Linked DNA regions of Homo sapiens. The protein of the gene in region 7 interacts with the protein of the main gene of each other region in a pairwise test. Each region holds a gene or a part of one and is shown on either strand. Other genes may lie near its edges.

Region 1 (4,612 bases), on a different chromosome or scaffold from region 7:
CAATTTTTATTTTTACCAGAATAAAGTTTGCACATAGTTTAGAGTAAAATTACTCATGAGTGTTCTCACTAGTTTCAACAGATTATCCATCTCTACATCAAAGGGTACCAAGGAGGAACAATCAATACCAATAAACTCTCCAATTTGAGTTCATCCTGAGAGTAAAATTAGATCGGAAAGAAAACAAGACTAAGAGTCAGGTTTGAGTGAAATTCCAGGGTCTTTACTTTTATCAACCAACCTGACCCTCAGTTCCTCATTTTTCAGATAGGGAGCCATAATACCTACTCCATCCACCTCATAGAGTTGCTGTGAAAATCAGGTGACCTAATAGTGAAGATGAGTGTGTATTAGCTAAAATAAGGCATAGGGAGCATTATATGATCTTTAAAGACACCTAAGAGATGCACAGGCACTCAGAAGAGAATAACAACATACAGTAATTTTCCAGATTCTTGTGATTGTCCCTGGGGATATAATGGGGGCTGAAAGGAAGAGGAATAAGTGTTGTGCCTGATTCTCCCATAGGATGATGTGATAGCTACACTTTTCCCCCAAGAGCCATGGAGACAGGACAGGGGAGGGGGCAACTGACAAGAAAACCAGCCAGCTAAGGCTCCCATCTCCTGTTGGACAGCCCTTGTTTATAAGACATATACTCTATGGAGGTTGCAAGATTTTCTTTCTTTTCTTTTTTTTTTTTTTTTTTTCCCGAAACGGAGTCTTGCTTTTTGGCCCAGGCTGGAGTGCAGTGGCACAATCTCAGCTCGCTGCAACCGCTGCCTCCTAGGCACAAGTGATTCTCCTGCCTCAGCCTCCCTAGGAACTGGGATTACAGGCAAGCACCACCACACCTGGCTAATTTTTGTATTTTTAGTAGAGACGGGGTTTCACCATGTTACCAGGCTTGTCTCCAACTCCTGATCTCAAGTGATCCACCTGCCTTGGTGTTCCTAAGGGATTACAGGTGTGAGCCACTGGGACGAGGCAAGATTTTCTATTTAAAGTATCAAAACTTAGTCTTTTAGTTTGACTCCAGTGTGAGTCTGTATAGAAGACTAGTGGGAAGTAAAACTGACACATAATAGGCCCATGAGGAATATAGATGGGACCTTTTTCAGGTACAAGTGTCAAAAATCAACCCCAAACTGCTTAAAACTAACAAACAAGCAGATAAGCGTACTGGGAATTTGTTAGTTTAAACAGATTCACATGCCTTTATATGCCTTTCTGAAAACAGCTGAACACTTTTTGTAATCAGACCTTACCTGATCTGCACTTTCTTCATGGCAAAACCTACCCTGACCTAAACTGACATTAATTAGGCCCTTAGTTTGTTTCATTGCAGAAATATGAATTGAATTTGATTGCAGTGATGTTGTCCTTGATCCAGACAGAGGTGTATGTAATATACTCAAGTATGTGCCTCATTGTGCTATTCTCACCTGAATAATTCTGAGTTCTGAAACATATTTAAATCCAAGAGTTTCAAAAAAATGATTGTGGGCCTGTCCAGCTGAAAAGCCAGAGGTAGTGCTAATGTCAGCTGTTTCTCCTTTTCCCTCAGAAGGTGCTTTCTAGTAAGCAGCAAAGTTCATATGCTGCTTAGTACCTTTCTTATCCAGTATTGAAATTAACACCTGAAAAAGACTCCTGATCGTTGACTGGGGTCGTATCCCCACATGTGGGCCAATCACTTTGTCTAGGAGGGTAGCAGTATTTTGATGGGTGAGCTTGGGTCACATGTCCTCCCTCAAAGGGAGATGTTGACCTTTGATGGGCAGTCCACCAGTTGGGTAGGGACAGTTCCCCAAAGGAAAGTGGGATGCTGTTACTAGAATAAGAGAAAAGAGATGTGGGATAAGAAAAAAAAAAAAAACCCACTAGAGATCAGGTTTTATAGGCCCTAAATGCCTAGGCTAGAGAGTTTCAACCTTATTATTTTGGATAAGTTTATATTGAAGTTTATATTGAGGATCTCTGAGAAGGAGAGACAACAACCCACTGATTCTACCAGCACAAGTCTACCATGTAACATACAGATCAGAAAACATTCTCTGTTCTTGAGAAGCTAGAACATTTTCACCTATAATTATCATTTAGTAAGACAAATAGTAATGGACTTCTGGGTAGTATAGTATGGTTCAGTCACGCCTTGGGAGAGTCTGCTGGTAGCAGTGTGCACAATGAACTGAATGCATAATGGCAGAGTGGTTATTGTGTTGGCAATGATTATTGGTAATGGAAACAGGAGCCATGACAATGGAAAGATTTGGAAGTTCTTGTAGAGGATGATTCAATAGGGCTTGGTAACTAAATGGAAGTAGGGGATGAGGAGGAGGGAGAATGTGAAGATAGCTGTAAAGTTTTAGCCTTGGGACCAGGAGAATGGTGGACTGTTGTGTAGAATTAGGACAGTCTGCAGGATCATTTTGAGAACAAAAGAATAGGCTCAGCATTAGTTTATACTTAAGGTATACAACATGATATTTTGATATACATATACATAGTGAAATGATTATTACAGGTAAGCAAATTTACATATTTATTGTCTTCCATAATTACCCCTCCTTTTTGTGGTAAGGGCACCTGAAATCTAGTCTCTTAGCAAATAGTCAATAAACAACACAGTATTATTATGTTGTTTATCCCTAGTACTCCTGCTGCACATTCCATCTCTAGACAAATTCATCCTACATAACTGTGAGTTTGTACCCTTTGACCTACATCTCCCTCCTCCCTCTCCTCACCCCGGTAGTCACTGTTACACTCTGTTTCTATGTAATCAACATTTTCTCCCCTAAATTCCACATATAAGCGGGATCATCAGCATTCTTTTTGTTAGAAGATAGAAGGACATGCTTATAGAAATGTCTAGTAGGTGGAAGAGCATTTAGGTTGGGAAAGAAGTATAAATTAGCACTCATCATCAACCTCAGTATAAAGGAAGCTTGTGGAAGGGCTTAGGATTGTTAAGAGATGAAGCATGAAGAGAGGGGCACTGAGAAGAAAAGGCAGAGAAAAGAATGTCTCCACTTAGGGAGCGAGGGAGAACGGGAGTAGATGAAGGGGCCAGGAAGATGGAGAGAGCCACCAGAAGAAAGGGTGCCTCCTTTAGATGGTGTGCAGTAGTGAGAAGTGCTATAGAAAGAATCCAGGAGGATGTGTGTAAAGTGATAAGGAGGCTTCCAGTGCTCTTAGCACCAATGCTTGATTGAATAGTGGAGTGGAAGTCAGGTTGTGGGGCAGTAGAGAAACGGAGTACAACAGTTTTTCATTGGACATCTGCTTCTATCCACCTGCCAGCCTCCATTCGCTCCCTTCATCTCTTTCTTGCCAATGTGCTGGAGTAGTTAGGATCATAGGTTTAGAATTAAAAGGGTTTGAAACCTAATACTGCTCCTTCCTAGCTGGAGGACCCTAGATAAGTGTCTTAAGCTCTCTGTTCCTCAGTTTCTTCATGTGTGTAAGGGATATAATAACAAGAGTGATCCCCGCATACAATTGTTGTGAGGATGAGTTAAAAGTAGCTAGAATAGTATCTGACACACAAATACTCTGTAAATGAGAGTTATTATATCTTGTTTAAAATTTTTTTGGCCAGGTGAAGAGGCTCATGCCTGTAATCCCAGCACTTTGGGAGGCTGAGGGAGCTGGATCTCTTGAGGCCAGGAGATCAAGACCAGCCTGGGTAACATGGTGAAACCCTGTCTCTACTAAAAATACAAAAATTAGCCAGGTGTGGTGGTCTGTGCTTGTAGTTGCAGCTACCCGGGAGGCTGAGGTGGGACAGTTGCTTGAGCCCGGGAGGCTGAGGCATCAGTGAGCCGAGATCATGCCACTGCACTCCAGCCTGGGTGACGGAGCGAGACTCTGTCTCAAAAAAAAAAAAAAAACAAACAACTTTTTTTTTTTTTTTTACCCTGCAGTAAATCGGTTCACCCCATTTGTTTTTTACCTCCCCATTCACTCTCAAACATGTCCAAGTTTGGAAGATAAATGATGTAGTCATCCCAATTGTATGTGAATTTGTGTGTGTGTGTCTAATTACACACCTATCCTTCCACTAGCTGGTGAGCTTTTTGAGAGGGCAGTGCCTCATTCATGATTGTATCCCCAGCACCTAGAACAGTGTGTGGTACAGGAGAAACACAGTGAGCACGTGGGCAGGGGGCATGCAGGGTGTAAGTAAAGAGGGATAAAAAGTCCATCTGGAAAGGAAGAGAAACGTTGGTGCCTCAGACTAAAGAGGAAGGAAGGGCGAGTGGCGAGTCAGAGGAATTCCGCTGAGGAGGAAAGGAAGTATAGAGTGGCCTCAATCTCAGTCACTTAAAAGGATTATAAATCATTCTATCATAAAGACACATGAACACGTATGTTTATTGCAGCACTATTTACAATAGCAAAGACTTGGAACCAACCCAAATGCCCATCAATTATAGACTGGATAAAGAAAATGTGGCACATATACACCATGGAATACTATGCAGCCATAAAGAAGAATGAGTTCATGTACTTTGCAGGGATATGGATGAAGCTGGAAGCCATCATTCTCAGCAAAGTAACACAGGAACAGAAAACCAAACACCACATGTTCTCACTCATAAGTGGG
Region 2 (3,980 bases), on a different chromosome or scaffold from region 7:
ACCCTGTCTCTACTAAAAATGCAAAAAGTTAGCCAGGCATGGTGGCACGTACCTGTAGTCCCAGCTACTCCGGAGGCTGAGGCAGGAGAATGGCGTTAACCCGGGAGGCGGAGCTTGCAGTGAGCCGAGATCGCGCCACTGCACTCCAGCCTGGGCGACAGAGCAAGACTCTGTCTCAAAAAAAAAAAAAGAGGGCATCACACTTTGTTGCCCAGGCTGGTCTCAAACTCCTGGCCTCAAGCGATCCTCTCGCCTCGGTCTCCTAAAGTGTTGGGATGACAGGCATAAGCCATCATGCCTGGCCTGTCTCTGAAGTCTTACAGACCCAAGTATGAGTCTCTGGGCTGCGGTTTCTGGCTGTGTGATCTGGGGCGAGTTCCTCTCTCTGAGCCTTAGTTTCCAAATCTGTACAATGGGGTTGAGGAGTTTGTTGCAAGTCAAAAATGAGATCAATTCCTAGCCCAGGCTCCCAGCACACCTTGGACCCTCTTTGCCTGCTACCCTTGCTCTCATCTGCCCTTCAGTTTGGTCCGGAGCCAGTGGCTTATGGGGAAGGGTTGGGCACAGCAGCAGGGTGAGATGGGCCTTAGGGAGCTCCAGGCTTCCCCGGGACGGGGGACAGGACCACAGGAAGCTGATCTGTGATTAAGTGTGGGTGTAATTTCAGCTGTTGGGAGGTGAGGAGGCTTGCTGGAGGAGGGGGCTGGGCCTGGGTGACTCGGCAGGCCTTGGCCTGCTGACCCCTTTAGGGCGGCCCTGCAGGGGACAGGCGTCTTGAGGGAGCCTCGGTGGTGATTAAGGTGTTTTCCAGGGCCTAGGAGGGAAGTCGCTGAGATACCTGTTTCCTGCCTCAGCTGGATTTCCTCACTGGGGAGGCTGCCAGCTGAACTGCAGGAGCCTCCCCTTCCTGGCGGTCCCTCAGCCCTCCTCCACGCAGCCAGCTGCTCTGTCACCTGACACTAGCCTACTTGTTCCGTACCTGCAGCCGGCACAGGATGGGGTTTTGAGTGTGCCCTGGACATTCCCGGAGGGAAGGAGGGCAGGCTGCAGGTCTGTCTGCAGGGTAGAAGCTGGAAGGGGCAGAGATGGACCACCCCCCCATCCCTTAGGCCCATTTCCCCCTGTCTGGGGAGTTGTGGCCCCTGCCTGGCTTGGCCCGGGCCTGCTCTCAGGCTGAGCGCAGACAAGTTAGGATCTGTGGGTCTGAAGCCCTGCCCGGGAGACGGTGGAAAGAAGGTGGCAGGAGGTGACTGGGTTCAGGGCCCGGAAGACGGGTGAGCAAAGTGGAGGGGAAGGAGCTCTTGGGGTGCCAGGCTGGATGATGACACAGTAATACGGGTACTTCAGACTTACCCAGTACCCACTGTCTGCTCTGAGTTTCTCAGTGAATCCTCCCATTCACCTGTGTTTCCTGCTCACCACCTCCCTGCGGTGCTCAGAATTAGGTCCCAGCCCCTGACTTAATATAGCCTACGAGGCCCTGCAACACCCGGCCTCCTGCCACCTGCTCCTCTCAAACTCCTCCAGCTATACCAGTCTTTGTTTCTTTTTCTTTTCTTTTTTTTTTTTTTGAGACAGGGTCTCACACTGTCACCCAGGCTGGAGTGCAGTGGCACAATCACAGCTCACCGCTGCCTCAACCTCCCACGCTCAGGTGATCCTCCCACCTCAGCCCCCTGAGTAGCTGGGACTACAGACACCCTCCTCTACACCTGGCTAATTTTTGTATTTTTTATAGAGACAGGGTTTTGCCATGTTCCCCCAGGCAGGTCTCGAACTCCTGGGCTCAAATGATCCACCCCCTTCGGCCTCCCAAAGTGCTAGGATTATAGGCGTGAGCCACTGCACCCAGCCTTTTCTTTTCTAATGAATATAAAAATTTAAAACAAATAGAGATGGGATCTTGTTGTATTGCCCAGGCTGGTCCCAAACTCTTTAACTCAAGCTATCCTCCCACCTCAGCCTTCTGAAGTGCTAGGATTATAGGCATGGGCCACCTCGCCTGACCAAGGCTTTGTTTCTTGAGCATGTGAAACACACTCCCACCTTAGGGTCTCTGCGTCTGCTGTTCCTTCTGCCTGGGACATTTGTCCCCGTAATATCCATATGACCCTCTCCCTCTTTCTGGTCCTTACCACTCTTCCCATAATGGCTGTCTCCTTAAACTGCTTTATTTTTGTTCTCACAATTGTCTGGCCTGTATTTGTCTGTATTTGTTTATGTGTTTATCTGCTTCCTCCTGCTCAGTTTAAGTTCTACGAGAGCAGGACCTCATTTGTTTTTGTTCACTGCTGTATGCTTAGCACCTGGCAGGTAGTAAGTGCTTAGTGAATATCTTTGTCGAATGTTTTAAGCTGTAGCTACTAGCCTGATCCCCATTCTCTAAGCAGAGGACATTGAGGCACTGAGAGGTTACGTAACTTGCCCAGTGACTTACATATCCACACACTCAGAGATGCTGCAAGCCAAGTTTTGAATCCAGACGAAGCTCTCCTAATCACGCCACGTACTGCCCCATGTGCTTGTCGTGGGCAGTCAGTAGATATTGCTACAACTTGTCACAGATGTTGATTAAGAACTCTGGTCCCAAGTAGTACAGGGGCTACCTCAGGCAAGGAATATCAGGGATTGGCTCGGGGACAGAAGCTCTTAGGTTGGGTATGCCTCAGTGTCCGTGGGGTCTCCTAGGGACGCCTGTGCCTGGAGGGGAAGCCTAGGAACTCTAGGGTGGTCATTTTTAGGTTTGTTAATTCATTAATGTTCTCATCAGATATTTCCTGGGACTCTACAGGCAGTTGAATTTATCCAGGGACTTTTAGGCCTGAGTGGGCCAGGCTGGCCCTGCCCAGTGTGGGAGGTCAGGGGCCCCTGCCCCTGCCATGCTGCTAGTGGGGGAAGGGGAAGAACACCCTCCTGGTTGTCCTGTGTGGAGCCTGCGCTGTTTTTTTCTGGCTGTTCCCTGGGGGCTCAAGGTTTAGGGTGAGTCTGCAGAGCTTCAAGGGCTGCCTGGCCTTGGGGTGAGAGGCTCAGGAGGGAGGGCAGGAGGGCCTGCCCAGGCTATGGAAAGATCTGGAGCAATGATTCAGAGGCCACTTGGAGGCCAGAGGTGTGGGCTCTGCACCCTCAGACTACTTGGGGTATATGGGAAGGGTTCCCAGCCCTGGCCTGTTGCCCCCCTCCCCTTCACCCAATCCAGTCCCAGCTATGAGGGGTCAGACTGGAGGAGGAAGTGAATATGACTTGGTTCCCCGGCAGCTTCCCAAGTATCTGCTGGGCCTACCTCTCCCTGTCCCAGGGCCTACCCTGGCCTTTTTCTCCTCTCGCTCCTGCTCCTGCCAAGAAGAGGGAGGCTGCGCCGAGGGTCCCGGCCCTGCTGGAATGTTGCTTCCGCCTGGGCCTTGGCCTCTTTGGCCCTGCCACCCCCTCCTGCTCCCGGGGCCAGCTGCCCCAGCACCCAGAGCTGGCTGACTGAAACCCAGAAGTATGTGTGGAACTCACTTCGCGGGGAGCCGCCGGCCTCACTGCCCAGCCTGGTGGCGTCAGGGCTGTGTCAATAGCAGCCTTGAGAGGGGTGTGGCTCGTGGCTGCTGGGGTGGCCGGGTCGGGGGTGCTGTCATGAAAGCCCTGAGAACAAGGTGGCTCTTTGAGGCCTGGGAATGTGAGGCCTTTGAGTCTTGCTGCCCCCAGAACCACTCTCCCTTCCCTTCCATGATGCTCATCTGTGCCAGGCCTGCAGGAACCTCAGAGCATCCCTGGAGGCATCTGTGGCATCCTGAGATAGCCTTAGGACCAGCTCCTAGCTCCTGACCAGGGCCCATTCCCTGAGCCATGAAGGAGGGTGTCCTGTTGCTCTGGGTTTTAGGGGAGTATCTGGTGCGCAAAGCCTTGCAGAGTGTGTTGAATGAATGAATGAACAAATGATGTATGTGATTAAGCGTTTTTTAAAATTCATTTCACAAATATCTGTGGAGCATCTTCTA
Region 3 (4,612 bases), on a different chromosome or scaffold from region 7:
CAAAACAGGAACAAGAGTGGCCCCTGATCCTTTTTCCCTAAGCACGGTTGCCCTCAGAGCAACCTAAAGTACATTCCCCAGGATCATCATCATCTGGGATTCCTTGTTATTTCCAACTTGCTGTGGAGAACTCTTGAACCAAGACTACTCTCTTATCTCTGTTGGGAGGGACCAGGAGCTTTGCAGACAGGGAGCCTCCCTGTTAGTTTCCCTCCGTTATCAAACTATATAAAATATACCCCCTTTCTCTTGGGGCCTCTATTAAGTTCATTCTAGTCTAATGATTGTACCTTGGCTCCAGTTAACAAAATCATCCTACTTTTCATTTCTAGGTCCCTCCTTTCCTGTCTTCTCACTTCCCAAATATGTGTACTTGGGGGAATTCCATGCAACCCCACATCTGGATCCTCCCAACTCTGTTGTAAAAGCTGATATGAAAGCTTGGGGTCTGTCTAACATTCTGTCAACTGCCCCCATAACATAATTTCAAAAATACCCTCCTTGTCCCCCACCTGCCGTGGTCTGCACACCATTGTTCTGGGCCCTGGCCTTCTCAAGCAGAAACTCAACTTGTTATAAAAACTCAGAATGGCTCAGCAGGGGGATCTTGATTCAGGTCATCCACAGTGGACAGAACAGAACTTGCCAAGCTGGACTTTATGGATATTGGGAATCCTCAGAGCCTACAGTTTGTCCCATGACAAACCCTATGGGCCAGGCTTTCCTTTTTTTTCGAGACAGAATTTTGCTCTTATTGCCCAGGCTAGAGTGCAGTGGTGCAATCTCGGCTCACGGCAACCTCCGCCTTCCGGTTTCAAGCGATTCTCCTGCCTCAGCCTCCCAAGTCGCTGGGATTACGAGTGCCCGCCACTACGCCCAGATGATTTTTTTGTATTTTTAGTGGAGACAGGGTTTCACCATGTTAGTCAGGCTGGTCTCGAACTGCTGACCTTGTGATCCACCCGCCTCGGCCTCCCAAAGTGCTGGGATCACAGGCGTGAGCCGCCGCGCCCGGCTCAGGCTTTCCTCTTTTATGCTGTATACCATAATGAAGACATGTTTATTGAAAGGGTTTTAGTAAACTGTTTACTAAAAGGATTTTTAGTAAATATGTTTTAAATTTTTTAAACACAATGAAAACATGTTTACTAAAATTTTTTTACTAAATATGTTTTACATTTTGAAAAATTTTAGTAACCATGTTTAATGTATGTTTTAAATTTTTATGTATTGTATCATAGAGTGTTTGTAAATACATAAAGGTCCAAATGAAGACTATAGGGGTTAGTCGAGAGACCTCTGAGGGAGTGAGGCTTTATGACCCAGGGCCATTTGAAAATTAAGAAACAAATACAGTCGGAGTCGGTTTCCATATATTTGGTTAATCCCAAAAATACTAAGTGCTATCTAGTCTTATTGCTTATACTTTCCATTAATTTATCAATCTATAATCTTGGATGGGATGAGGTGGAGGGCGAATGAGGAAGTTGTCTTTGAAACCAATGGAAAAAAAAAGATGATGATTTTTAATTTTACATTTTCTCTGTGGGAATAAGTGTTTTTTATATGTTAAAGTTCAGGCTTAGTTTCCACCATTTCTTTTTCATTTAGATAGGTTTGTAGTTCTATTCATCCTTCATAAATTCTCTTCTTGCACTTCTGTACTACGTGATTTTAATTTTCTCTATCCCATTATAGGAGAGAAGCAACACCATTAAACCTGATTTGAACAAACACTTGAGTTACATTTTTAAAATCTTACTTGTATAATCGCAATTTTCAACACACATTCTAGAAAACTAAGGGTGGATCATGTACAAACACAAAAAACAAGCTCCCTCCCTCCAAAACAAATGAACAAAAATAAAGAAAGAAAACCCATGAAATGCCCAGGTTTAATTTTTTTTCCACCAGAGGGAAAAAGAGCAGTTAATAATAATCTTGTATGGAGAATATACACCAGAAAGCAGCATTGGCCTCAAAGTACAATTAGTCCTTTTAGTTCAGAGAACTATCAGCGGCTGCATGGTGACAGGTATTGCAATCTCAGTTACAACTTAATGCTCTGTTAGGGTGATGTATCAGGTTTTGTTCCATGGCTTTAAAAAGGACTTAGAACCAGGCCTTTAAAAGGCCTATATGGCTGCCTCCTTTTAGTAAGCACCCCTTAGCTTCAATAAGGAGTTAGAAATAAAGCCAGCCAACTTTCTGAAAGATGGTATTCTACAGCTGTAGAAGAAATCAGAAAGTGTTGGTACGTTGTTCATAGGAACTGTAGGAAAGGTTTTCATTTGCCCTTTTATATGAACCTCTTGTATTTGTTTACTTATTTCAAACCTGGTGTAGACACAAAAATATCCCCGCAGCTCATACTGTATTTGAATTTATTTCCTGGCAGGCTTTCTTTCCAGAATAATTCTGAGCTGCCAGTGAATTTGCGGGGAGCGTTTCATATACAGAAAGAACCTATCTTAATCAAATAACCTGCGATTGACAGAAAAAATTTTCTCATTCAAAAGGGCAACATTGCTTTCTCTTAATGCACAGGTTCTGGTAAAAGATTTCTATACAAGATCTATAAAATGCTCTAAAAAAACTTGTCATCTAATTGTGCTTAGTCAAAACAATGTAATGATTCGGTAAATAAATTACTGTCTTAACTGGAGCACTCAAAATTACTTGTGATTGATTTAATATATATATCTCTATATTAGAAAACTCTGAAACCTGAATGGGATATATTATACTGTATGTGGGTATCTATCCTATTAAGAAACTATATCTAAGTTATCTAAACCAGAATAGTTGATATACATGACATCTCCATTAAATAGAACTTCTTGCTTAAAATTTCAGCAAAGCCAGAGATCTTTTATACTCTTGTGAGCTTAAGGTTTGCCCAGTTAACCACTCATTTTGGAAGATACAGTTAAAATTTCGTAACAGCTAATATTGTTCTTATCTTTGCCCTTCTTCTGAACACTTCTGTGACCCTTTGCCTCTTTATTTCTTCAGAATGACCTTCTGAAAAGCCCCTTGATTTAGGGTGACTTTTACTGCTGCTCAGACCCTGAATAACCACTGACGAGGTTTAAGAGGTACATCTCTCAATTCAGAGAACTGCACGGAGTGAAATGATGAACAGAATTATTTACAGTCACATTCAGTCTTGCTTTGGTTCACACTGCACGTCTATGTGAAACCATAGGGGCTGGGAGATGGCTACGTCCCTTGGTTCACCCGGTTGACAATGTAGCTCTTGACATTGGGAATAGGCCGCACATCATTCTGGTGCTTGCGACGTTCTATGAAGCATGCTAGGCGGGAGGTGTCCAGGGGGATCTTAGAGTAGCTGCCATTATGGGGCTGCAGCCATGGATGCTGCAAGCATGTGGCTGCTGTGGGCCGCCTCCGAAAATCTTCCTGTAAGATCACATTGATGAAATCTCTGGCAGCATTGCTCACACCACAGAAGTATTCATGGGGGAAGCTGAAATCCACCCTGCATACGTTGATACATGTCTCCTCTTTGCTCTCATCCAAGAAGGGGGAGACCCCACTCAGCATGACATATGTCAGAACCCCGATGCTCCAGATGTCTGTCCCCAGGGAGACGGGGATGCCTTGAATGACTTCTGGGGCAGCAAACTCAGGGTTCCCCAGCAGGTGGTGAATGTGGAAGTGACCCGAGATCTGGACAGCATCCTCCAAGTCAATGAGCTTCACTCGAGGCACTGGAATCCGTAGGTCAATGAGCAGGTTTTCAGGCTGCAGAGATCCAAGGAAGCAGGGAGAAAAGAAGGGAAGTTTAGGCCTCTATTTTGACTACTCAAAATACCTCATTAATTCAAACACAGTTATGCTATTCTTTGATAAAGCCTATGGTGTACAGAAAATTCCCTATGCACTACGGAAACTGCATAGGATACTTCAAACTATCATTTTGAGCTTACTACACTTTGAGTTTGGGTGGTAATTCAGAGAAGTTGTTTGACATTGAAAATCATGTTTTCTTAACTACACTGCTTCTGCATTGAATCAAGGAAATAATAAATTACTCATTTTGGTGAACAGGGGCTTCTTTTTGAGAAGCATGGAAGAGAAGGTGACGTTTGTTGGCTTACTTCTATGAAGTTAGATTAGGTAGGTAGAACTTCCCTACCTTCTCTCACACCAGATGTCATTGTGGCTCTGGCATATTCTCATTAATTCATGGATGATACACTTAAATTGTGTGACAGCCCAGATTCTCTTTAATAGTCATAATGGGGAGGCCGGGCACGGTGGCTCACACCTATAATCCCAGCACTTTGGGTGGCCAAGGCGGGTGGATCGCAAGGTCAGGAGTTCGAGACCATCCTAGCCAAGATGTTGAAACCCCATCTCTACTAAAAATACAAAAAAATTAGCCAGGCATGGTGGTGGGCGCCTGTAATCCCAGCTACTCAAGAGGCTGAGGCAGAGAATTGCTTGAACCTGGGAGGTAGAGGTTGCAGTGAGCTGAGATCATGCCACTGTACTCCAGCCTGGGTGACAGAGCGAGACTCCATCTCAAAAAAAAAAAAAAAAATAGTCATAATGGGATGGATGTGTTGGCTCACGCCTGTAATCC
Region 4 (3,817 bases), on a different chromosome or scaffold from region 7:
ACATCTTTGGCTGAGCGTCCAGTAGCAGTAAGTACTTAGAAGTGTGGACTGAACTGGGCTATAAGTTGCATGGCAATATTGATCTTACTTTTATCCTTGACTTGGGAGTGTTGCTGAAATCTGACGGATTCATTGGCCTTTTCTCCTCTCTCCTGTTTGGTTAGACATTTAACCTGTGTAGAGCATCTGCTGTAACTGTAATTAACTTAAACAAAAGTGAAAAGTCCCCACTCTTGTGTGTCTCAGTGTTTAATGCTCTTAGGCAAAGTAAATTCATTGTAAATTGTGTAATTCATTATTATGTCTTCATTTGGAAGTGTGCTATTTAAGAATACCTACAGTTGTATACTAGGCAAACCCTATTTTGAATGATCTGAAATTACAGATTGATAACAGAAGAATGTTTGCTGGAAGTGAAATACTGAATAGTGGAAGTCTATAATTACCCGTTGAGCCAGTTCCCAGCAGTGTCCTTAAACAGTGTCCACATAAGTGTATTCTCTTGTAACTTGTATAGCTGTTATGGCTGGTAAGTCCTCTGATCATACCTCACTGTGATTCTCGACATTGAAATTAAAATAATTTTAATGATTGAGAGTTTCCAACCCACTTTCCCATAGGAAGTGATTAATCAGTATCTCATAGTAGACAGTATTACTAGTGAATGAAGATGAATAGAGCTGTGCCTGTATAATTTGTGTACATAACATTGTTTCTCTTGGAAAATACTTCCAAGTTCCAGCACAGGACTCCAGGAATACACATTTCTTGAGAAATGTTTTTATCCAAGAGCAGCTTGGATAAGACCCGAGACCCCTTTGAAGTAGGAGACTTCGAAGAGTGTAGAGACTACTTTGTTAGAAAGGAGAAGCAGAGGTGGAAAGAACGTGGCCTTGGAGTCAAACCTGGCATGGAATTCCAGCCAGCCTCTTACATGCTGTGTGACCATCAGCAAATCTAATACTCTCTGCGCCTGTGTTCCTGCATATTTAGAACAAGATGGTCCTATTACAGATTTAGAGATGTCAGAATTTGTGTTAATATATGTAGGGCCTACAGAAGGTACTCTGAATAATCGCTGTTACATGGTAGAGAATGGATTTTTCATTCCCTTTCATTCTCTGCATTCTTAATATGGAAATTACTCTGATAGGAGGGATGTGCAGAGGGAGTGACTGCCTTAGAAATAGATGTATGAATGGCGTAACTTCTATCATTAGTCAGGAATGACCTCCATTTATAACCTGTGCGTTCCCTTCCATTTGCAGATGTAAGCAATAATATGATACAGCAAGTGTTCACTCCTGTGGCATACTTTTAACCTTTCTAAGCTTGTCAGTGGGAACAAATGAGAGGGGTAGAGTTTTTTGCACTAATTCTGCTCTTTGGACAAGTGCCTGACATCTGCTTCATTGGGTTTTAGTTTTTACTGGTGTTGGTGCTTTTGTCTGTCATACCATAGTATTTCAAAACTTCAATTGTTTCTACTCTGCAGGTTAATATGGCTCCAAAAGGGCCCCCTCCTTTCCCAGGAGTCCCTCTCATGAGCACCCCCATGGGAGGCCCTGTACCACCACCCATTCGATATGGACCACCACCTCAGCTCTGCGGACCTTTTGGGCCTCGGCCACTTCCTCCACCCTTTGGTAAGATGATCTGAACAGTAGTAATTGACTTGTAAAGCACATTCATCTTCTCCATCTATCCCTTGCTAAAACAACTGCAATTGCGGGGCTTTGCAATGCAGCAGTGAAGCTGATTGAGTACACCGTAACTTTTCCCCAAGTTTCTTCAGACACAAAGGGTGCTACATAATCTCCTGTGATTAGATGGGCAATAGTTGTCTCTAATAGAACAAGGAAAGGGGCTATTTATAAAAAGCCAGAAATATTCATCACATTGAACATCTGTGGCTGTGTACTAGGCTCTGCAATGGATAGCAAGGTAGATAAAATACATCCCCTAACTAAGATGTCCTGTAGGTCACAAATATACACATTCTACAACATAAAGCTTCTAATCACCCATAATGGAAGCATAAGCAGTAGGTCACAGAATATTAAGGAAAGACAAAACCCTCAACCCTCACCTTGGGAATACAAAGAAGGGAGATATGAAAGAGAAGGTAGAATTTAACAGCTATCTAATGAATGCTGCTGAATTTAATTAGATGGAGCTGGAAAGCCTTTTCCAGCAGGGCAAGCACCTTAATTTTTATGGCATTTATTAGGTACATCTTGAGCTACTGCATAAATTTTTAACTGATACACAGTAGTTAATGGAATTTATCAAAATTTTTATTGCAATGAAGCCATATTTAGTCTGTCTTCTTGGTATGGTATATAGTACTTCCAAGTACAAATCTATCTCTCTTTTTCAGATAAAGATGGCAGGCCAGGCACAGTGGCTCACGCCTGTAATCCCAGCACTTTATGAATCCCAGCATTCATTAGACGAGGCTGAGGCAGGTGGATCCCTTGAGCCTAGGAGTTTGAGACCAGCCTGGGCAACATGGTGAAACCCCCATCTCTACAAAAAATCCAAAAATTAGCTGGGAGTGGTGGCGTGCACCTGTAGTCCCAGCTACTGGGGAGTCTGAGGTGGGAGGATTGATTGAGTCCGGGAGATTGAGGCTGCAGTGAGCCATGATCACTCATTACACTCCAGCCCATGTGACAGGCAAGACCCTGCCGCCAAAAAAAAAAAAAAAAAAAAAAAAGGATGACAGACTATATTAACATACCTGGCATTATCTTAATTTAAATACGTTCCTAGGAATTTACTGGAAATAATTTTTGTTTTCCAGGCCCTGGTATGCGTCCACCACTAGGCTTAAGAGAATTTGCACCAGGCGTTCCACCAGGAAGACGGGACCTGCCTCTCCACCCTCGGGGATTTTTACCTGGACACGCACCATTTAGACCTTTAGGTTCACTTGGCCCAAGAGAGTACTTTATTCCTGGTACCCGATTACCACCCCCAACCCATGGTCCCCAGGAATACCCACCACCACCTGCTGTAAGAGACTTACTGCCGTCAGGCTCTAGAGATGAGCCTCCACCTGCCTCTCAGAGCACTAGCCAGGACTGTTCACAGGCTTTAAAACAGAGCCCATAAAACTATGACCTCTGAGGTTTCATTGGAAAGAAAGTGTACTGTGCATTATCCATTACAGTAAAGGATTTCATTGGCTTCAAAATCCAAAAGTTTATTTTAAAAGGTTTGTTGTTAGAACTAAGCTGCCTTGGCAGTGTGCATTTTTGAGCCAAACAATTCAAAAATGTCATTTCTTCCCTAAATAAAAATCACCTTTTAAGCTAGAGCGTCCTTACAACTTTGAAATGTGCAATAAAGAATACCTGTGTTTTAGCTAATGTAGCATATGTAATTGCAAAATGATTTAGAATGTCATGAAAAATATGAACATTTCCTGTGGAAATGCTTTAAGAACATGTATTTCCATTATCCTATTTTTAGTGTACACCAGCTGAATACGGAGCAATGGTGTTTATAAGCGTTTTTTTAAACTATCTGGTCACAAAGACTGTTACGCTAAAAATGTTTACTAAAAGATCACTAAACTATCTCCCCTCTTGCTGAAGTTCTTTGTAGTAATAGCTCATAAAAATTTGTTTATTAATATTTCCCAAGTGTCTGTTGACTCATTGGACTGTTATGAGGCTTGTGCCATTTGGGGAACATGTAAACTCAGGCTCCCAGAACTGAAGATGGTGGCTGGTGGCACACTTCCGGCTGCTCCTCCGTCACCTGTGAACTCTACAAGTGACGTCTTTTTATTTCAAAGAAGTTTATTTCC
Region 5 (4,612 bases), on a different chromosome or scaffold from region 7:
TTCTCCCAGAGAATGAGTGCTGCCCGCGCTGTGTCACAGACCCTTGCCAGGCTGACACCATCCGCAATGACATCACCAAGACTTGCCTGGACGAAATGAATGTGGTTCGCTTCACCGGGTCCTCTTGGATCAAACATGGCACTGAGTGTACTCTCTGCCAGTGCAAGGTAAACTCCATTAAATTTAAATAGTGAGCACTTTGCCAGCTGCACCCAGGGCTCATAGATAATAATGTGCTCTACCTGGACAATAGGAAGGTTTTTTTTTTTTTTCCTGTTTATTTTTCAAACATAGGTGGGCGGAATGCCACTCAGCTGTTAGTTCCAGGGCTGTCATGGACATCCATCTGATGTATATTCAAGGATAGTGCATGGACTAAAACCAGAATGATCCGTTATTTATATCACCAACATAGAAACAAGCTACTTAAATTGTCCTAGATATCTAACCGTACACATCTTTTAAAAAAGCTGAAACAACAAACCTCATGTTTCTTCTTTCATGATAGGAGACAATATTGTTTTATTGATTTTTAGCTGGTTCTTTTACAAGGTCCGTAAGATACATAAGTGAAGTAGATTTATTACATTTTCCAAAGTGGAAATCAATATGGCAAAGATGGGCATATTTCTTGGTTTGTTGTGGTCAGTTACATTGAGTTGAAACATTTAAGATCTGTTTTTTACCATATTTTATTCATACAGTTGGAGAAAAACCATTACAAAGCTCTTTCTCCTTATTCTCATTGGAAAATAGAGCTCTGTGCCTTTTGCTTCAATGAGAGCACAAATACAATGAATATAGGCAGAGCATATAGAGTTTGTAGATTAGTGACAATGTTGGAAGCATTCTAATTTGATTATTATTTCTACAAAAATTTAATTTTGTGGCCATTATGCTTTATAGTCATAATTTTGTAATCAACACTAAAACTAAATAAATAACCTGAAGGCTTAACAGTAACAACTAAATAGCAGACGTGTCAGATTTTTCTCAGCATAACATAGCCAGATATCTGTAACTGCTCTGATTTTTTTAAGTGAGCATTTCCATTTTGTAATTTTTTTCCTACAGAGCAATTTAATTCAGATTCACTTACTACAAATTCTTACCAGAGTAGATTGAAGTAACAGGACAAAGAAATATAAAATGCTTTAAGCTTTGAGATGCCATTTTTATCTATTTCAAGCTCAAATTTCTAGTTCTTTCAATCAATGCAATTTGTCAATCAAGCAAAGCTTTTTGAGTGAACATTTACTGCTGTTTTATGAAATGCATTAGCAAATTTAAAAGTTACTATTACTAAAAGTTACTAATAATGTATATGCGATGTTCCTTTAATATACATTTAATATGTGTATACTTAATAGTGCATATCTTGAAACTTAGCACTAATGACTAACAGGGAAATACTTTCTGTCATTTAATTACCAAATAGAGTTGAGTCCTCTTACACCCTTAATCTTTCTGTGAGATTATTCTTCTGAGCAATAGTGACAAAAATATATATTGAGTGATGGACAAAAATGAAATATAGCACAGATGGATATTTCCAGTAAGAAAAATGCATACAGTAATAGGCAGGAAAACAACTCAGACTGTTTTCTGGGGTAAAGAATTTGAATGAGGCCGGGCACGGTGGCTCACGCCTGTAATCCCAGCATTTTGGGAGGCTGAGGTGGGCGGATCACAAGGTCAGGAGATCGAGACCATCCTGGCTAACACGGTGAAACCCCGTCTCTACTAAAAAATACAAAAAATTAGCCAGGCATGGTGGTGGGTGCCTGTAGTCCCAGCTACTCAGGAGGCTGAGGTAGGAGAATGGCGTGAACCCGGGAGGTGGAGCTTGCAGTGAGCTGAGATTGTGCCACTGCCCTCCAGCCTGGGCAACAGAGCGAGACTCCATCTCAGAAAAAAAAAAAAAAAGTATTTGAATGAGTTTGTCATTCACTACCTTATAAACAACTACTATAATCTCTCAGCTTTTGATAGGAATATATTCCAGAAAGTGTATTTTGATATTAAAGTCATTTCTTTCTGTCAGATAAGTACTGATTCATAGAAGTTACTATTAAATACTATTTTCTTTATCTCTTGTTATTAAATATGAGTCATAAAAATATGCTCAGTTTTGTCAAATTTATCTCAAGTACTCATTTTTATTACATTTATTTTGTGTTATTTTGAAAATAAAGTTTATGCAAAACAAGCTTCAAGTATTGCATTAGAGGTAAGCATTCTTCACAATTTAGTGCTTTGAAAGCACTATTTTATTTATTATGTCTCCATTCTACTCCCCTCTGAGTTATTTGTTTCTAATTGATAAATACACACCGTGTGGGGCATTGTGCTGGTACCAGGTGTATAATGATAAGCAAAACCAGACACAGTCACCCTTGGAAATTATTCTCTATCAGCTTATTATCTGGCACTCTGTTGTTCAATATGCTAGTCAGTAGCCACATGTGGCTATTTAAATTTTAATTAATTAAAATTAAATAATATGAAAATTTTAATTTATTAGTTACACTAGCCACATTTCAACTGCACAATAGCCACATGTGGCTACTGGCTGTCATATTAGATAGCACACTGTGTAAGGCCATTCTTGCATTGCTATAAAGAAATACTTGAGCTTGGGTAATTTACAAAGAAAAGGGGTTTAATTGGCTTACAGTTCTGCAGGGTCTATAGGAAACAGTACCATGGTCTGCTTCGGGGAAGGCATTTCACATGGCAAGAGTGGGAACGAGAGAGAGAGAGAGAGAGAGAGAGAGAGAGAGAGAGAGAGAGAGAGAGAAAGTAGTTGGTGGGTAGGTACCAGACATTTGTAAATGTTGCCTTTATCTATCAAAAACTACAAACTTGAAGTTGTGCCAGTGGACCTCTGTTCTAACATTAGAATAGATAACTCGATCTAAGGAAAAAATACCTATAAATAAGCAATATTATAATAAAGCTTTTAATATATGATCAGGACTTTGCAGATCAATGGAGGAAGAAAACATTATTTCACAAATAATGGAATGACTAAATAACAATTTGAGGGAAATAACACACAGTTATAAAAATTATGTTACATATCAAAACAAATTCCACATGGAAAAAGTGTTAAATATTAAAATAAATTAAAATAAAGAAAATATAATTAAATATTTATCAAAACTCTAGAAGGGAGATACTTTTTAAAATTTATCAGTGATAAAATATACCTGAAAGAAAAGATTAGTGCTTCTATAGATACATAAAATTAGCAAAAAAAAAAAAAAAGTCACAACTACATACTAGAAAAACAGCTTCAGCAGATTTGGTTTCTTTGTTAGATTAAAAACATAAACATTAATAAGAAAAGCACTTACTGCTGGGTGCAGAGGCTCATACCTATAATCCCAACTGCTCAGAAGGCCCACTTGAGCCTAGGCGTTCAAGGCTGCAGTCAGCCATGATCATGCCACTGCACTCCACCTTGGGTGACAAAGTAAGACCTTGCCTCTAAAACTTTTTTGGAAAGCAATTATTTCCCCCATAAATAAATCTGCAAAGGATAAATAAACAACTCACTAAAAAAGTACACCTACTAAAATAAAAGAGGAAATCATTGAGCCTTTAAATAATTGAACCTTAATTGTAAACTAAAATTATAAATAATTATTTTCACATACTATAGTAAAAAAGTTTCTCCTAATAATTTCTAATGCTGACAGAGATATACTGGAATTATTATTTTTGTGCACTGTTAATATCATTAAAAAATACACAATGCAACACATACTATCCGCACCCCCATATACACACACAAATATATTGTTCTCTTTAATCCCAGGTCTGAGAATCTAACCTAAAGAAATAATCAAAGTATAAAACAAGCTATATACATGCCAATATCCATCTCAACATTGTCATACAGAATTAAGGAAGAAACGAAAATATCCAACAATAGAACAGTTAAATAAGTTATAGTAACTTTGTATACAATGCAATTATATGATGTGTTATACTTATATAATATATTCTAATTACATATTAGAAGATCATATATTATTATTCAGCTGTTGAAGTAATCACAATGCTTATAATAAAAATTAAGATAAAAATATTATGCACGTTGTGCACATGTACCCTAAAACTTAAAGTATAATAAAAAAAAGTACTGGTCATGATAATAATGAAAACAAACAAAAAATATTATGTATAATTACATATTCACTTTATTTAACTACAAAAATCTTGAAAATAAAGGAAATGGACTCTATTAAAACATATTGAAATATCAATAGTAATAGGATTAAAAAATATAAGTGTAGCTGAAAATTAAAAGTTGACTGTCTTCTAATCTTGATTTTCAAAGGTTAGCATGAAGAGTGGCAAGGACTTCTTTAACAATAAATATAGCCAAAAATAGCAGGGTCTTAAGGAAACTTATTTTACTGTGTCACTATATAAAAATAATTACTTTTTATAATGAGTTTTGATAGTAGGTGCTTATTATTCCTAGTAGTCAGACTGAGTTTCAGTGAGTCACTTTTATTTTCATTTTTATCAAGTTAATATTTATTATAGTGAAATTCACAGTTAAGTATATAGTTTGATGAGTTTGATAAATCAAAATACA
Region 6 (4,612 bases), on a different chromosome or scaffold from region 7:
CTCTGCAATCACTTGCTCGGCCCACGTGGCCAGTGTCCCCGCCAAGCTGTGGGCCCGCATTGTGAGCGCTGGCGAGCAGCAGAGCCCCCAGCCTGTCTCCAGTGCCTTGGTGTGTGCGGCGATCAGGGGGGTCTTACAGGGTGGAGTCTTGAGGAGGGGGAGAGTTTCAGTTCTAAGCCCGGAGGTCAGAATGTGCCATACTCGGGGTGAGAGGGAGAAGATGTTCGTCCTAACCTTGTGCATACATCTCTGCCACCCCCTCCCAGAGCTGGCCCATCACTGGGGGCCGAAACCTGGCCCAGGAGCCGTCACAGCGAGGGCTGCTGCTGACGGGGTAGGTGTGCGTGCTTATGTGGGTGAGTGGGCCCCTTGCTGTTGGGGGAGAGCCCATCCTGGGCCTGGTGGGTGCAGAGGTGCCAGGAGACTCAGGCCTGGCCCCTGGTGGGACCAGGTAGTTCCTCCTTGCCCAAGGTGGTTTGGAATGAAACCTCCCTGGACCTTGGTTCAAGGTGCTGCCCTGATCTGCCTTTTGGCCTGGAACTGAGCTCTACCAAACCCCAGGGCTCCACCCGCCCAGCCTGCCTGCCCTGGGACTGGAAAATCTGGGCTGGCCCACGCTGAGCTGCCCAGGGAAGGTGCCAGAGAGCCCAGCGTGGGCCTGGCGGGCGCTGACGTGCCCAGTGACTCAGGTCTCAACTTCCTGCCCTGCCCCCACTCCCGCCTGTGCTGGGACCCTCAGGCCTCTGACTCTGGTGTGCCCTTCCCTGCTGAAGAGCTTGCCGTGGCTTTCAGGGCTGCTGGAATGAGTCTCAACCACCCCCACAGTCACACACCTCTCACGCCCTGGCTCTGGGCTTTCACCACCGCCTGGGGCCCTGCTTGGACTCTGCAGCTGTGTCCCAAGGCTGCGCCCTAGATTTGTCTACTCCTTCCCCTGCCCCCTCCCTGCTTTCTCCCGGCCTCTGTAGTCTTCCTGCTCCTCCACCTACGTGGCTGCCTTGGGCCCCATGCAGCTCCTCCCCCGGGATGCCCCATGCTCTGTTCTGTGACTGCCTTACTCTTGATCACCTCTGATGGCTGCTCCAGTGCAGGCAGAACCCCCAAAGTCCTCTGTTCTCTACATGTCCCCCTTTGCCACCTCCTGTTAATCAGGGTGGTCATTTCCACCTTGTTTGGTTTAAAGGCTCCAGGTGCATATGGTGCATGTGGCCTGGCCTATAACAGGTGCACAGTGTACCTGTGCTGTCTACAGTAGGTGCCTATTGTTTTTTGTAAAAGTAGGATTCCGGTCAGTGTTTGGCACGTGCAGTAGGTGCTTAGTGAGTGGTTATCAGATGAGTGAATGGAGGGGCGTGCAGGCCTCCCAGGAACTCGGGTAGCCCTGACATCTGCCCTCCCTGCAGCCATGAGGACGGCACCGTGAGGTTCTGGGATGCCTCGGGTGTGGCGCTGCGGCCGCTCTATAAGCTGAGCACAGCTGGCCTCTTCCAGACAGACTGTGAGCACGCTGACAGCCTGGCCCAGGCTGCCGAGGACGACTGGCCACCCTTCCGCAAGGTGGGCCCCTCCCCTGGCCCTGATGAGCTGGTCCTGACCCCGCCTGGACTCATTACTCCTTCCCATCCCTCTAGGTGGGCTGCTTCGATCCCTACAGTGACGATCCCCGGCTTGGCGTGCAGAAGGTTGCTCTCTGCAAGTATACAGCCCAGATGGTGGTGGCTGGCACTGCAGGCCAGGTAGGGCTGGGTGTCCCCTGGGTTGGAGATGTCAGGGAGGGCTTTCTGGAAGAGATGAGCTGGAGGGTCTGGTGGAAAGGGAGATGGACTGGCACAGGCAAAAGCCAAGGTGGGAATAGGGCTCTGGGTGGGGCTGGCTGGGGTGAGGACAGATGGGAAGTGGGCCTGTCGCTGGGGGAACCACAGTGTTGAGAGGAGGGAACTCATGTCAGTGCTGTGCTCCGGCACTCACATGACATACAGGAGGTGCTCAATGTGTCCTTATTGCTAAATGGGAGATAGAGGCTCAGGGTAAGGGTGGACACTTTGCCCTCAGAGGGCAGGGACTAGTGTGTCTTGGTCACCACTGTGTTCCTTGTGCTCAGCCAGGGCCTTGGTATACAGTAGGCATTCAGTGAGTGCTTGTTTAGCTGATGAACTGAAGACAGTCCTAGAACCACCTTGGTGGTGGCTGGGGCTGCTTCAGAGGCTCCAGGCTGAGTGGGGCCCAGGGCGGCCCCTCCCCTGCGCTGATGCTCCCCCTGCCTGGCTGTGGGCTCAGGTGCTGGTACTGGAGCTTAGTGATGTGCCGGTGGAGCAGGCGGTCAGCGTGGCCATCATAGACCTCCTCCAGGACCGCGAGGGCTTCACATGGAAGGGCCACGAGCGGCTGAGCCCACGCACGGGGCCGCTGCCCTGGCCTGCTGGCTTCCAGCCCCGTGTCCTGGTGCAGTGCCTGCCGCCAGCTGCTGTAACCGCTGTCACACTCCACACCGAGTGGAGCCTCGTGGCTTTTGGCACCAGTCATGGCTTTGGCCTCTTCGACTACCAGCGCAAGAGCCCTGTGCTGGCCAGGTGTGTGGGGTGGGGCCGGCTGGGCAGTTGGAGCCCCCAGCGAGATGGGGTCTGGGCTTCCGTTTCCACCTCTAGTGTTTGGTGTGGCAAAGGCCACTAACCTCCATTGCCCTATAAGAAATAACCTGGCAGCTCCAAGAAGGACATTCTCAGTACCACCTGCAGCTGGGTCCATAGGACTGCGCCAGAGGGGCTGTGACTCCCTGACCTGGGTGCCTCCACAGGCCAGCAGGAGTGTGGTGGCTGCCCCAGGAGGCTGCTCTATAGCACGACTGGACCCTGTCTTCCCCCAGGTGCACTCTTCACCCCAATGACTCCCTGGCCATGGAGGGTCCGCTCTCCCGGGTGAAGTCTCTCAAGAAGTCACTGCGCCAGTCTTTCCGGCGCATTCGCAAGAGTCGTGTCTCTGGCAAGAAGCGGGCTGCTAATGCCAGCAGCAAGGTGAGCTGGGGTGGGCTGCACAGGAGCTGTGCCTGTGTCCTGTGCCTTGGCCTGGCTCTGGCCTGGGACCCCTGGGGCCTGCTTAGCTCAGTGCTCCTCCCTCGGCAGCCCCTGGGCCCTCCAGAGGGATGGGTGAACTAAGCTGGGTGGTAGAGGAATGGTAACAGAACGTAGGGCGCAAAGCAGGATGCAAGCCACTGGGGTGCTAGGGAGACAGTGTTCAGGAGCCCCCGCCCGGCAGTTGCAGGAAGCCAATGCACAGCTGGCTGAGCAGGCCTGCCCCCACGACGTGGAGATGACGCCCGTGCAGCGCCGCATTGAGCCCCGCTCTGCCGATGACTCCTTGTCGGGTGTCGTGCGTTGCCTATACTTTGCCGACACATTCCTTCGAGATGGTAAGGCAGGGGCAGGGGCAGGGACAGGGCAAGGGTTGGGGGGGCTGGCCTCAATTGGCCACCTGGGAGATGGGTGGTGGCAAGGGAGGTGGTGGGACTGCACCTTCCAGGAGGTGGCTGGGCACGGTGGCTCAAGCCTGTGAGTGATCCCAGCACTTTGGGAGGCCGAGGTGGGCGGATCACCTGAGGTCAGGAGTTTGAGACCCGCCAGGCCAACATGGTGAAACCTCGTCTCTACTAAAAATACAAAAATTAGCCAGGTGTGGTGGCGGGCGCCTGTAATCCCAGCTACTTGGGAGGCTGAGGCAGGAGAATTGCTTGAACGTGGGAGGCGGAGGTTGCAGTGAGCCGAGATCGTACCACTGCACTCCAGCCTGTGCAACAGAGTGAGACCTTCTCAGAAAAAAAGCTTACCATCCAGCTCTCCCAGGGGGACTGCTGGGTCACCCCCAGTCTCTCTGGGGGAGCTGGATGGTAAAGGATTTTTGAGTGAGCTGGGTGGGCCTCTCAGATCTGAGCCAGGAGAAGGGAGGTTGAGGCCTGGTGGATGACGGTGAGGGGCACCAGCCAGTGCCCAGGCCCCGAGCCGGGCATGTGTGTGGGCAGCTGCCCAGCCACTTGGCTGGAGTGGAGCAGGTGAGGGTCGAGGTGTGTGGTTCAGGGAGATACTGCTGCTGGCCAGAGGCTGAGGACCTGGCTTTGATTCTCAGTGGCCTGGGAGCCCTGGGAAGGTCCTGGATTTGTTGATTGAGTCACTGATTGATTTTGAACTTGTACAATGGGAGAGTTTCAAACATACACAAAAATAGAGAGGTGCAAAGTTGTCCCACATACCTCACATGCCTGCCACCAGCCATGTGCCCCTGCGGATTCTGCCCCCCTCCTCCACATTCTTTGCTGTTTTTTTTGCCGGGGTATTTTAAATGAAAACCCAGATACAAGTACTTCAGCATGTTCCTGACAGATGTCACTGACAGCCACTGCTCACATCATGCCCTGTAGAACCAATGTGAATTCCTGAGTGTCATCTGCTTGGTCTACGAGCTCAGCTTTCTGATGCCATTTATTTGTCGAGGGTCTTTGTGCAGTGGATTTTCTCACTGTCTGGATGTGGCGGGTGCAGCTGGGGGTGGGGGGTTCTTTGACTTTTTGTTTTTTTTGACTACAAAGACCTAGAAGAGGAGAGCCTGGGGTTTTTAACTTGTT
Region 7 (4,612 bases):
AAATGGGAGGATCATTTGAGGCCAGAAGTTCAAGACCAGCCTGGGCAACATAGTGAGACCCTGTCTCTACAAAAAAAAAAAAAAAATTAAATGTATACAGGCATAGTGGCATGCACCTGTAGTCCCAGTTGCTTGGGAGGCTGAGGTGGGAGGATTGCTTGAGCCCAGGAGTTCAAGGTTACAGTGAGCTATGATTGTGCCACTGCACTCCAGGCTGGGCAACCAAGGGAGACTCTGTCTCTGAAAACAAACAAAAGAAAAAAAAATAGGCTGCAGGAAAGTCTTCATTGTAGGAAGAGAAGGGACATTTTTATTTTTTGTTATCTGGCTGTGTGTTAAAATAGGCTTCATAATGAGTTAGATGTCAAACTTATACACAGAGGGGATAGCAATACACTTAACCAATAGCAGGTACCCATTCCAATTGGGGAGCCTTGGTTCTGATTGGTCGAAATATTTCAAATGTTGCCCCTGGTCAGCAACAGGGTCAGAAGTGAGTCCCCAAGGCCTAGTTCATGTTTTGTGAACAAAGATTCCACGTGCCTTTTAGGACGAGCAAGAGGAAGAAGAAGCAGCGAACCAGAAACTTGCCCTACAGAAAGCCAAGGAGGTGGCAGAAGTGAGTCCTCTGTCCGCGGCCAACATGTCTATAGCTGTGTAAGTGCCCCTAATCCCTGGGATGCTACCCTGGCTCCTGAACGTCCACACTATCCCAGGCACAGATTTGGGAAGCAGTGGGGGTGGTCCTTGACAGAACTGAGCTTTAGGAAGAGACACTTCTTGTCCTTCCACCCACTTTCACTCAATAAATATTTGGTTAGCAGCTGTTATGTACCCAGCACTGTTCTAACTTCTGGGGATACAGCATTAACAAGGAGGAAAAAAAAAATCCCACCTGTGTGTAGCCATTCTAGCAAGGGAAGGAGTCAATAAATTAGATAAATAAGTAAATTATATATTGTGTTAGAAGGCGATGGAACTACAGAGAAAGTAGGGGAGGGAAATAGCAAATGCTGGGAGTGAAGAGAGTTGTGATTTTAAACGAAGTTGTCAGGGAAGGCATCACCTAGAATAGGGGTCCCCAGTCCCGGGGCTGTGGACTGGTACCAGGCCGAGGCCTATTAGGAACGGGGCTGCACAGCAGGAGGTGAACAGTGAGCAAGCAAGCATTACCGCCTGAGCTCCACCTGCCGTCAGATCAGCAGGCAGCATTAGATTCTCATAGGAACACAAACACTATTGTGAACGGTGCATCTGAGGGATCTAGGTTGCGTGCTCCTTTTAAGAATCGAATGCCTGATGATCTCAGGTGAAACAGTTTCATCCCAAAACCACCCCCCACACCTAGGTCTGTGGAAAAACTGTCTTCCACAAAACTGGCCCCTGGTGCCAAAAAGGTTGGGGACTGCTCACCTAGAAGGTTACATGGCCTGAAGGAGGTGAGGGAGGAGCCACTGGGGGGCCTGGGGAAGGGCATCCCAGGCAGAGGGAACAGCATAGGCAATGGCCCTGAGGCAGGAACATGCCTGATGTGAAGGAGGCCTGTGTGACTAGAATCGAATAGTAAGTGTGAGGAGGTGAAGGCAAGGAGGTGACAAGCAGATTACACAGGGCCTTCTGGGTCAGGGGGGAGGACTTGGGCTTTTGCCCCTAGCCAGGTGGGAGCCATGGAGGGTTCTTGAGCAGAGGAGGCTGGGACCTGACTCAGATGCTCACAGACTCCTAGCATTCAGTGGGGAGTAGAGGGTGGAGAGCAGGAGTGGGAGGCTGAGATGTGGGTTGGTTCGCCTGGGTCATCCATCCAAGCTACAGTGCCTAGCAATGCTCTAAGTCCTGTGACCATGCCACTGCAGGAAAGAGCAACAGAAGAATCAAAAGCCAGCCAAGTCCGTGTGGGAGCAGCGGACCAGTGAGATGCGAAAGCAGAACTTGCTGGCCAGCCGGGAGGCCCTGTATAACGAAATGGACCCGGACGAGCGCTGGAAGGCTGCCTACACGCGGCACCTGCGGCCAGACATGAAGACGCACTTGGACCGGCCGCTGGTGGTGGACCCGCAGGAGAACCGCAACAACAACACCAACAAGAGCCGGGCGGCCGAGCCCACCGTGGACCAGCGCCTCGGCCAGCAGCGCGCCGAGGACTTCCTCAGGAAACAGGCCCGCTACCACGATCGGGCCCGGGACCCCAGCGGCTCGGCGGGCCTGGACGCACGGAGGCCCTGGGCGGGAAGCCAGGAGGCCGAGCTGAGCCGGGAGGGACCCTACGGCCGCGAGTCGGACCACCACGCCCGGGAGGGCAGCCTGGAGCAACCCGGGTTCTGGGAGGGCGAGGCCGAGCGAGGCAAGGCCGGGGACCCCCACCGGAGGCACGTGCACCGGCAGGGGGGCAGCAGGGAGAGCCGCAGCGGGTCCCCGCGCACGGGCGCGGACGGGGAGCATCGACGTCATCGCGCGCACCGCAGGCCCGGGGAGGAGGGTCCGGAGGACAAGGCGGAGCGGAGGGCGCGGCACCGCGAGGGCAGCCGGCCGGCCCGGGGCGGCGAGGGCGAGGGCGAGGGCCCCGACGGGGGCGAGCGCAGGAGAAGGCACCGGCATGGCGCTCCAGCCACGTACGAGGGGGACGCGCGGAGGGAGGACAAGGAGCGGAGGCATCGGAGGAGGAAGTAAGTGGAGGTGACCTCGAATCCGCAGAATGACGGTAACATTAATAATGACAACAGCCAAAGTAGCACGTGCTGTGTATTTGTTTATAAAAATATATTATAAAATGCTGTATTTGGCCAGGCGCAGTGGCTCACGCCTGTAATCCCAGCACTTTGGGAGGCCGAGGCGGATGGATCACGAGGTCAGGAGTTCAAGACCAGCCTGGCCAAGATGGTGAAACCCCACCTCTAATAAAAATACAAAAATTAGCCGGGCACGGTGGCAGGCGCCTGTAGCCCCAGCTACTCAGGAGGCTGAGGCAGGAGAATCGCCTGAAAACAGGGGGCGGAGGTTGCAATGAGCCGAGATCACACCACCGCACTCCAGCCTGGGCGACAGAGTGAGACTCTGTCTCAAAAAAAAAAAAAAAGTGCTGTATTTGGCCAGGAGCAGTGGCTCATGCCTGTAATCCCAGCACTTTGAGAGGCCGAGGCGGGCGGATCACTTGAGGTCAGGAGTTGGAGAACAGGCTGGCCAACATAGTGAAACCCCGTCTCTACTAAAAATACAAAAATTAGTGGTGGTGCCCACCTGTATTCCCACTACTCAGGAGGCTGAGGCGGGAGAATCAGTTGAACCTGGGAGGTGGAGGTAGGTTGCAGTGAGCTGAGATCGTGCCATCACACTCCAGCCTGGGCAACAGAGCAAGACTCTGTCTCAAAAAAAAAAAAATGCTGTATGTTTTTGTTTTTTTGACACAGGGTCTCGCCTGTTGCCCAGGCTGGAGTGCAGTGGCAGTCATAGCTCAGTGCAGCCTCTACCTCCCGGGCTCAAGCCATCCGCCTCAGCCTCACAAGTAGCTGGGACCACAGACATGTGCCACATGCCTGGCTAATTTTTGTAGAGACAGTGTTTTGTAGAGACAGGGTTTCACTGTGTTTCCCAGGCTGGTCTCAAACTCCTGAACTCAAGCATTCCGCCTGCCTTAGCCTCCCTAAAGTGCTGGGACTACAGGGTTGAGCCACCACACTCAGCCTAATTTTTTTACCTTTAGTAGAAATGAGGCCTGGCTCTGTTGCCCAGGCTGGTCCCCAACTCCTGGCCTCAAGCAATCATCCCACCTCAGTCTCCCAAAGTGTTCGGATTAGAGGCTTCACAGATGGGGAAACTGAGAGATTGAGTGAGCTCCTCAAGGTCATTCCTCTAACCAGTGTCCTTGAACCCAGGCTCTCTGGCACCAGAGGCCTTGAGCATTTCAGGGAAACTATTAAGAGAAGCCCCACTGTCGTCCAGAATTATATAGTCTTCTGTGTTCTTGCTGTGTGACTTTTGCAAAGTGACTTCATATCTCTGGGCCTCACACAATGGAAATAGTGGGATCTAATTGGGTCATTGCCAGGATTGAATGAGGTAATGTATGCAAAGGGCCTGGAAGAGCAGCTGACACATAATAAGTGCTCGGTAAATTTAGAGCATTTTTGGCCATTTTCAGCCAACTCTATTTACCTAATGCTATTCTTTGGAAGTTTGAAAAGCCACTCTGTTGGGAGGCCAAGGTGGGAGGATCACTTGATACCAGGAGTTGGAGACCAGTCTGGGCAATAGAGGCAGACCCCATCTCTATAAAATATAAAAAATTAAACAGATGTGGTGGCATGCACCTGCAGTCCCAACTACTTGGGAGGCTGAGGCAGGAGGGTCACTGGAGCCCAGGATGTCTAGGCTATGATGAGCTATGATTGCACCACTGCACTTCAGCCTGGGCGACAGAGCAAGGCTTTGTCTCAAAAAATAAAATAAAAAATAAAGAAAAAGAAAAGGCACTTTGGGCCGTTAGAATTGAAGGGAGAGCAGAGTTTCAAAGCTTTGGATGCAGCGGGATGTGGTGGCTCATGCCTGTAGTCCCAGCACTTTGGGAGGCCAAGGTGGGAGGATCCACTTGAGCCCCGGAGTTCAAGACCAGCCTGCG

The links.
Region 1: the proteins of CACNA1A (region 7) and PCSK5 interact in a two-hybrid assay, tested with the Homo sapiens proteins (one study listed by BioGRID and IntAct).
Region 2: the proteins of CACNA1A (region 7) and HSPG2 interact in a two-hybrid assay, tested with the Homo sapiens proteins (one study listed by BioGRID and IntAct).
Region 3: the proteins of CACNA1A (region 7) and KALRN interact in a two-hybrid assay, tested with the Homo sapiens proteins (one study listed by BioGRID and IntAct).
Region 4: the proteins of CACNA1A (region 7) and MIA3 interact in a two-hybrid assay, tested with the Homo sapiens proteins (one study listed by BioGRID and IntAct).
Region 5: the proteins of CACNA1A (region 7) and NELL2 interact in a two-hybrid assay, tested with the Homo sapiens proteins (one study listed by BioGRID and IntAct).
Region 6: the proteins of CACNA1A (region 7) and LLGL1 interact in a two-hybrid assay, tested with the Homo sapiens proteins (one study listed by BioGRID and IntAct).

The regions. Positions count from the first base shown.
Region 1 is NC_000009.12:75,896,799-75,901,410, forward strand, and holds part of PCSK5 (proprotein convertase subtilisin/kexin type 5 isoform 3 precursor), read left to right. Parts: intron 1-4,612. UniProt on the Homo sapiens protein: Serine endoprotease that processes various proproteins by cleavage at paired basic amino acids, recognizing the RXXX[KR]R consensus motif. Likely functions in the constitutive and regulated secretory pathways.
Region 2 is NC_000001.11:21,930,811-21,934,790, reverse strand, and holds part of HSPG2 (basement membrane-specific heparan sulfate proteoglycan core protein isoform b precursor), read left to right. Parts: intron 1-3,980. UniProt on the Homo sapiens protein: Integral component of basement membranes. Component of the glomerular basement membrane (GBM), responsible for the fixed negative electrostatic membrane charge, and which provides a barrier which is both size- and charge-selective.
Region 3 is NC_000003.12:124,718,081-124,722,692, reverse strand, and holds part of KALRN (kalirin), read right to left. Parts: intron 3,769-4,612; coding exon 3,223-3,768; 3' UTR 1-3,222. UniProt on the Homo sapiens protein: Promotes the exchange of GDP by GTP. Activates specific Rho GTPase family members, thereby inducing various signaling mechanisms that regulate neuronal shape, growth, and plasticity, through their effects on the actin cytoskeleton.
Region 4 is NC_000001.11:222,662,503-222,666,319, forward strand, and holds part of MIA3 (transport and Golgi organization protein 1 homolog isoform 1 precursor), read left to right. Parts: coding exon of another isoform or gene 1-27; intron 28-1,495; coding exon 1,496-1,646; intron 1,647-2,806; coding exon 2,807-3,117; 3' UTR 3,118-3,817.
Region 5 is NC_000012.12:44,515,560-44,520,171, reverse strand, and holds part of NELL2 (protein kinase C-binding protein NELL2 isoform b precursor), read left to right. Parts: coding exon 1-167; intron 168-4,612. UniProt on the Homo sapiens protein: Plays multiple roles in neural tissues, regulates neuronal proliferation, survival, differentiation, polarization, as well as axon guidance and synaptic functions.
Region 6 is NC_000017.11:18,235,204-18,239,815, forward strand, and holds part of LLGL1 (lethal(2) giant larvae protein homolog 1), read left to right. Parts: coding exon 1-109; intron 110-266; coding exon 267-334; intron 335-1,403; coding exon 1,404-1,557; intron 1,558-1,631; coding exon 1,632-1,736; intron 1,737-2,277; coding exon 2,278-2,570; intron 2,571-2,863; coding exon 2,864-3,011; intron 3,012-3,252; coding exon 3,253-3,406; intron 3,407-4,612. UniProt on the Homo sapiens protein: Cortical cytoskeleton protein found in a complex involved in maintaining cell polarity and epithelial integrity. Involved in the regulation of mitotic spindle orientation, proliferation, differentiation and tissue organization of neuroepithelial cells.
Region 7 is NC_000019.10:13,296,595-13,301,206, reverse strand, and holds part of CACNA1A (voltage-dependent P/Q-type calcium channel subunit alpha-1A), read left to right. Parts: intron 1-550; coding exon 551-657; intron 658-1,853; coding exon 1,854-2,663; intron 2,664-4,612.